Homo sapiens: one gene and its partner. The protein of the gene in region 1 purifies or fractionates together with the protein of each later gene. This does not show direct contact. Each region holds a gene or a part of one and is shown in the gene's direction. Other genes may lie near its edges.

What was found. Proteins that work in one complex are often made in the same cells at the same time.
Region 2: the proteins of SLC71A1 (region 1) and ANO6 purify together in Homo sapiens (affinity purification with mass spectrometry; one large-scale study listed by BioGRID and IntAct). This does not show direct contact.

What each region holds. Positions count from the first base shown.
Region 1 is NC_000001.11:100,065,477-100,069,127, forward strand, and holds part of SLC71A1 (hippocampus abundant transcript 1 protein), read left to right. Parts: intron 1-2,500; coding exon 2,501-2,719; intron 2,720-2,996; coding exon 2,997-3,110; intron 3,111-3,651.
Region 2 is NC_000012.12:45,219,095-45,222,745, forward strand, and holds part of ANO6 (anoctamin-6), read left to right. Parts: intron 1-3,651. UniProt on the Homo sapiens protein: Small-conductance calcium-activated nonselective cation (SCAN) channel which acts as a regulator of phospholipid scrambling in platelets and osteoblasts.

The sequences.
Region 1 (3,651 bases):
TTCTCTTCCCCCTCCCCTCCCCTCCCCTTTCCACTTTTCACTTTCACTTTCCCCTTTCCTTTTCGCTTTCACCTTTCTCCTTTCCTTTCCTTTTCTCTTTTCCCTTCCCTTCCCTTCCCTTCCCCTTTTCCCTTTCCTTTCCCCTCCCCTTTTCCCTTTCCCTTCTTTTTTCTTTTTCTTTCCTTTTCCTTTCCCTTCCCCTTTCCCCTTTTCCTTAAGCCTTTTCCCTAAGCCTTTTCCCTTTTTTAACCCTTTCCTTCCCCTTTTCTCTTCCCCTTTCCCCTTTTCCTTTCTCCTCCTCTCCTTTCCTTTCCTCTTCTCTTCTCTCCTCTCCTCTTCTTTCCCCTTTCTCCATTCCTTTTCCCTTTGCTTTCCTTTCCTCTTTCCTTTCCAGACAGGGTGTTGCCCAGACTGGACTCACTCTTGGGATCAAGTGATCTCCCACCTCAGCCTCCTGAGTAGCTGGGACTATAGGCAGGTGCCACCTCACCTGACTAAGAGTGCTATTTTTATGAAGTGTTTCCTGCTGTCACATCTGCTAATTTGTAGGCTGTTGTCCAGTAGGCTAGAAATGTCTGCGGTTAACAGGTTTGCTCTACTCGTGTCCTTTTCAACTTTAATCTTCATCTTCACCAGGCTTAAAAAAATAGACTTCCTCAGAGTTTTAGAGATGTTCTTAATTTATCTGTGATTTCATTCTTCCTAACCCTGCCAACTAAAAAGATTACCAAGCTCAGTTTTGTTCCAGGGCTTAACATATTATTCATGAGAACAGGAACCTCCAAGTCTTTAAGCTTTATTTCAGCTAGCCCTTCAGTATGTATCAAGATAAACGTTCATTTAATTTTAATATTGGAAAAGTCACAGTGAAATTGGATTTCCTTAGAGCAGTGGATTTTAGACTCCTTTCACAGAGAGCACTTAAGGGTTTATGGAGATGCCCTTAACCAAGCTTGTCCAACCCATGGTCCACAGGCTGCACACATGGCCCAACAGAAATTCATAAAGTTTCTTAAAACATTATGCAGTTTTTTTTTCTTTAAGCTCATCAGCTATTGTTAGTGTATTTTATGTGTGGCCCAAGACCGTTCTTCCAGCGTGGCCCAGGGAAGCCAAAAGATTAGACACCCCTCCCCTAAGGACCAGCATGACTGGCAGTCAAGGAGGGGTGTTTGTACAGTGCCCAGGCTCTCAACCCTTCCTCAACTAAAAGAGTTAAAAAATTTAAATAGGCCGGGCATGGTGGCTCACGCCTGTAATCCCAGCACTTTGGGAGGCCGAGGCGGGCGGATCACGAGGTCAGGAGATCGAGACCATCTTGGCTAACACGGTGAAACCCCATCTCTACTAAAAATACAAAAAATTAGCCGGGCGAGGTGGCGGGCGCCTGTAGTCCCAGCTATTCGGGAGGCTGAGGCAGGAGAATGGCGTAAACCCCGGGGGCGGAGCCTGCAGTGAGCCGAGATCGCGCCACTGCACTCCAGCCTGGGCGACAGAGCGAGACTCCGTCTCAAAAAAAAAAAAAAAAAAAAAAAAATTTAAATAGAGGCAGGGTCTTGCTGTGTTGCCCAGGCTGGTCACAAACTTCTGGCTTCACGCAGTCCTCCCACCTTGGCCTCCCCAAGTGCTGAGATTACAGGCATGAACCATCACACCCAGTCTTCTTAAAAAAATCTCTTTTACCTATGAATTTGCCAGTAGGATTTATTGGAACAGAGGGCTCCAAGGCTTAGAAAGTTTGAAGACAGTGTCCTGAGAGGCTATCATTTATTTTATTTTATTTTTGAGATGCGGTCTCACTCTGTCACCCTGGCTGGAGTGCAGTGGTGCTGTCATGGCTCACTGCAACCTCCGCCTTTCTGGCTCAAAGGAATTCTGCCACCTCAGCCTCTGAAGTAGCTGAGACTACAGGTGCACACCAGCATGCCCAGCTAATTTTTCTTTTTTCTTTTTTGATACAGACAGGGTTTCTCCATGTTGTCCAGGCTGTTTTTAAGGCAAGAATCTAATTCTTTACTTTTCCTGCCAAAGGAGAGAGTATAAGAAAAGTGGGGCCAGGCTTGGTGTCTCATACCTGTACTCCCAGCCCTTCGGGAGGCTGAGGTGGGAGGATCGCTTGAGCTCAGGAGTTCGAGACTAGCCTAGGCAACATAGCGTGACTTCCACCTCTATAAAAAATAAACAAAATTAGCTGGGCGTGGTGGTGTGTGCCTGTAGCCCCATCAGGAGATCTTCAGGCAGGAAGATCTCTTGAGCCTGAGAGGTCAAGACTACAGTGAGCCGTGATGGCACCACTGCACTCCAGCCTGGGCGACAGAGCAAGACCCAGTTCCCCCACTCTCGCCCCCACAAGAAAAAAAGATAAATGGCACAGGTAGGAAGAGAAAAGGGAGGGTGTGCAACAGAAGGCCTGACATAAATCAAGATTATGAAAGGAGTTATGTGGTGTTGAGGAAAAAAGTAGCCTGACTAATCTCTGTCTATCCTTAATTTATTGCAGGTTTCAGCAACATTTGCTGCAAGTTTAGTCACCAGTCCTGCAATTGGAGCTTATCTTGGACGAGTATATGGGGACAGCTTGGTGGTGGTCTTAGCTACAGCAATAGCTTTGCTAGATATTTGTTTTATCCTTGTTGCTGTGCCAGAGTCGTTGCCTGAGAAAATGCGGCCAGCATCCTGGGGAGCACCCATTTCCTGGGAACAAGCTGACCCTTTTGCGGTAAGTTTATACTTTTTCCTTCTCCTTGATAAAAAAGTGCATGATTCAGTGCAGCATTAATATTTTGTTGTGGATATTTCTTTAGGGAAAACATCTTGGGTTTTTCTTTTAACATTTTGAAATACTTTTCAGAATAGTTTGGGGAATATGAAATAAATAAAAAGGACAACTAGTTGTCCATGAGTACACTGCCAAAAGGAATCTCTGCGTATTCTTAAGAATAGTTCAGTGGTTTTGATAGAAAACCTTATATCAATCAGTCTTTTTCTTGTTCTAGTCCTTAAAAAAAGTCGGCCAAGATTCCATAGTGCTGCTGATCTGCATTACAGTGTTTCTCTCCTACCTACCGGAGGCAGGCCAATATTCCAGCTTTTTTTTATACCTCAGACAGGTAAAATCCTCTTCCACTAAGGTGGACTTTTCTTTCATTGTCTAGTGCTTTAATAAAAATATTTAATCTTGAGAGAACTGTAATAGAAGTGGCCTTTAAAAATGAATATCATTGGACTTGGTATAGTGGCTCACGCCTGTAATCTCAGCACTTTGGTAGGCCAAGGTGGGTGGATCAGCTGAGGTCAGGAGATCAAGACCAGCCTGGCCAACATGGCAAAATCCTATGCTTACTAAAAATACAACAACTAGCCAGGCGTAGTGGCGGGCACCTGTAATCCCAGCTACTTGGGAGGCTGAGGCAGGAGAATCACTTGAACCCAGGAGGCGGAGGCTGCAGTGAGCCAAGATTGCGCCATTCACTCCAGCCTGGGTAACAAGAGCGAAACTCCGTCTCAAAATTAAATAAATAAATAAATAAATAAAAAGAATATTATTTGGTCTACTAGACTTTACCTCCTATTCTGTGTGGCTGATGTTCCTTATGCATTTCTAATGGGGGTTATTTGGTATATTAAGATATTTGGCTTAGGGAGAAAGAT
Region 2 (3,651 bases), on another chromosome or scaffold:
GTACCCAGCCTTAGAATTATTTTGACACGAGTTCCTGGGTATACCATTGGGCGTTATAATGGCCTAATTTGCAAGAGACCTCCCCCTCCCCCCAAAAAAAAACTTTCTAACTGGATGGGGTCCCTGATTATATCATAGAGATGCTTTATGTATGTATATGGAAATGTGCCCTCTAGTAGCTGGAATTTAGAGCCTTTTAAACAGTGGGTTCCTGCTTACTTTTGAAACACTGTATTTTTATTGTACTTTTATTTATTCATTTAGAGACAGGGTCTCCCTCTGTCAGGCTGGAGTGCAGTGACGCAGTCACAGCTCACTGCAGCCTTGACTTCCCAGGCTCAAGCAATTCTCCAACCTTAGCCTCTTGAGTAGCTGGGACCACAGGCCTTGTGACACCATGCCTGGCCAATTTTTTTTTTTTTTTTTTTTTTGGTAGAGACAAGGTCTCACTGTTGCCCAGACTGGTTTCAAACTCCTGAGCTTAAGTGATTATCCTACCTCGGCTTCCCAAAGTGCTGGGATTACAGGTGTGAGCCACCATGCCTGGCTGTTCAGTACTTTATGTCAGTGTTGCCTCCTAGTTTAGAATGAACTGATCTGGAGAATCAAGGATAGTACATCTCACTATGGATGTCTTTTCCTTGTTTGTTTAAGTTACAGCCAGCAGAAATTATTTCCAAAGGCGTGCTTGTGTGGCAACCTGTTGGCATTAGAGCATTTTTGCAATAGGCCACTTATTTCTAAAGCAGAGCCAACAACCAACCACTGAAGCCACATCCAGGCAGTAGTAGTGGGAAATGTGTGGTTTGAAGCCCCTGTTGTGCTGGTGGAGATCACATATTGTTGCAAGCCCCTGGGAGTTAGGTTGTGTGCTACCCTGCCAAGTGTGCAAAAGAGTGTCCTTGGCTGCTTTTCGCCCCCTCATCAGCGGATTAAATTCAGCATCTCTTCTTGTTCATGTAGAATGCTATAGGAACAGCTTTTGTAGCCAGAATGCAGAAATCAGATTAGTATGCTGCTTTATTTTGTTTCTTCAATTCTGTTCTCTGTGGTCAAGCTTTGCTGAAGGAGGAAAAGTGGTTCCAAAAAAGACTATCAGGAACTATTCAGACTGTTCAGATAATGAGGTTTTGTTTGTGGATGGTTGGTTGGTTGCTTTGAGTTCCTAGTCTGTTTATGGTAGTTTACTGTCTGATCCCCATCACTAATGGTCATGTATGTCATTGAGGGGTAGACAGAGGACATGGTCCATTACCTTTGAGAGATAATGATCCAGCTATTGGCTCCCTTTTCAACTGTCACATTTTTACATAGACTTATCTTCCCACACCCACCTCTCTTTCCTTATTACCTACTTCAGGTTTAATCACCTATAAATCTGATACTAGCCCCAGTCTTCCTTCATAAACATTGATTGAGCAATCCTTCTGTGCTAGTTTCAGGATTAGGTGCTGGGTCAGGTGTTGGGAGACTGAAAATGAGTAAGACATACCTGTGTCTTCCAGGAGAAAAGTTCCTTAGAACCAGACTGTGATATTGTGAAATATATAAGGCATTCTTCCAGTTTCTTGGCATGCAACTCCTAAAACTTTTGGAATTTTCAAAGTGGTAAGTGTCTTTTTGTATGCTAATAAGTTGACAGATGGCTGGCAGCCCCTAGGTAGCTTCCTGATGGGGGCTGGTCACTGGAAAGACCAAGGCAGGATTAAAGGTTTGGACTTCCAGCCCCATCTACCAACCTGAAGAGGGGTAAGAGCCAGGCTGAAGGTTAAGCTGATCACCAGTGGCTAATGATTTAATCAATCATGCCTATGTAATAAAGCCTCCATAAGAACCCAAAAATTCTGTGCGCTGCCCTGGCAAATTAATGGAACCCAAAGAGGGTGTTGCAAGAACCTCAATTTGTAGCCGGTGGGTCAGAAACCCAGGCAAAACAACCTGGGGCCTGTGATTGGTGTCGGAAGTGGGGGGGGGCAGCCTTGTAGGACTGAGCCCTCAATCTGAGCTCTGAGGCTTACTGCAGGTGGATAGTATCCGAATTGAGTTGATTTAGAGGACGCCCAGCTGGCGTTCATTGCTGAACAACTACTTGCTTGTCATGTGGGAAGAACTCTTCCCACATCTGGTGATAAACGTATTCTGTGTTGATTGTATTGAGAGTACAGAAGGAGAACCTGAGTTTGGTTTTCTCTGCATCATCAGACAGAGATTTGCAATAAAAGGTACATATAAAACTGAAGGGAGAGACTGGGAGAGAGCTTCACAGAAGAGATTTTTGGGTCAGATGCTGAAAGACTAGGAAAATGTAGTGCAGAGATGGCCGGAGGAGAGTCTGGAGTTCCAAATAGTTGCCTGCTAGGGAAGGCAGGGAGAGGCTATGCCGTGAAGGATCCTCCATACACTTTAAGGATTTTGGGTTTTACTCTGTATGTGATTTGGAGCTCCTGAAGGATGTTAATGAAAAGAGTGATAGGATTGGATTTGCTTTTGGAAAGATCTCCATGGTAGCACGTTCTAAAATGGGTTGGGAAAGGAGACAGTAGAGCTAAGCCTTTCCAGTAGTTGGGGTCAGAAATGCCTGCAGTGGTCATGGAATAGAGAAGAATGGGTCTGACAGCTTTATGAAAGAGGCGCCATCTGTGGGTTCTCAGCTGCTGATTGTTTCCGGCAAGCAGAGAGGAGCCCAGGATGATGGTGGCAGGAGGAGAGAATTTTCTGTTCCAACTAGTCTTTTAATTTTCCCCTCTGACCATTGGCTCAGACCATTCTCCCTCCCCGACTCCTTTTTTTTTTTTTTTTTTTTGGGAGACGTTGTCTTGCTCTGTTGCCCAGGCTGGAGTGCAGTGGCGTGATCTCAGCTCACGGCAAGCTCCGCCTCTTGGATTCACTCCATTCTCCCACCTCAGCCTCCCAAGTAGCTGGGACTACAGGCCCCCGCCACCACACCCAGCTATTTTTTTTGTATTTTTAATAGAGGCGGGGTTTCACCGTGTTAATCAGGATGGTCTCATCTCCTGACCTCGTGATCCGCCTGTCTCAGCCTCCCAAAGTGCTGGAATTACAGGCATGAGCCACCACGCCCGGCCCCCCCACTCCAGCTCTGTTGCCCAGGCTGGAGTGCAATGGCTCAATATCAGCTCACTGCAACCTCCGCCTCCCGGGTTCAAGTTATTCTCCTGCCTCAGCCTCCTAAGTAGCTGGGATTACAGGTGCCCACCACTGTGCCCGGCTAATTTTTGTATTTTTAATAGAAATGGGGTTTCGCCATGTTGGCTAGGCTGGTTTCGAACTCCTGATCTCAGGTGATCCGCCTGCCTCGGCCTCCCAAAGTGCTGAGCAGGCGTGAGCCACCATGCCTGGCCAGACCATTCCCCTTCATAGTAATTTCAGCCTCACCTCCTCTTTTTCTCAGTGGTTCCCTGTGATATTATGACACATATGTTTTTGTCCATGGTTCCTGGCTTATAACTACCATAACTCTTGCTATAATGTTGGGGTGCTTTAGGCCTCAGAAGCAGAAGCAGGCCTCAGAAAACAATCTCCATCTTTGACCTGCCCTATTTTTACCTTTGTCTCTCCAATTTTAGAAACTAAAACTATAATCTTTCCCCATCTTTCTGTGTGAGAACTGCCCATAAAGAAATTCTCCCA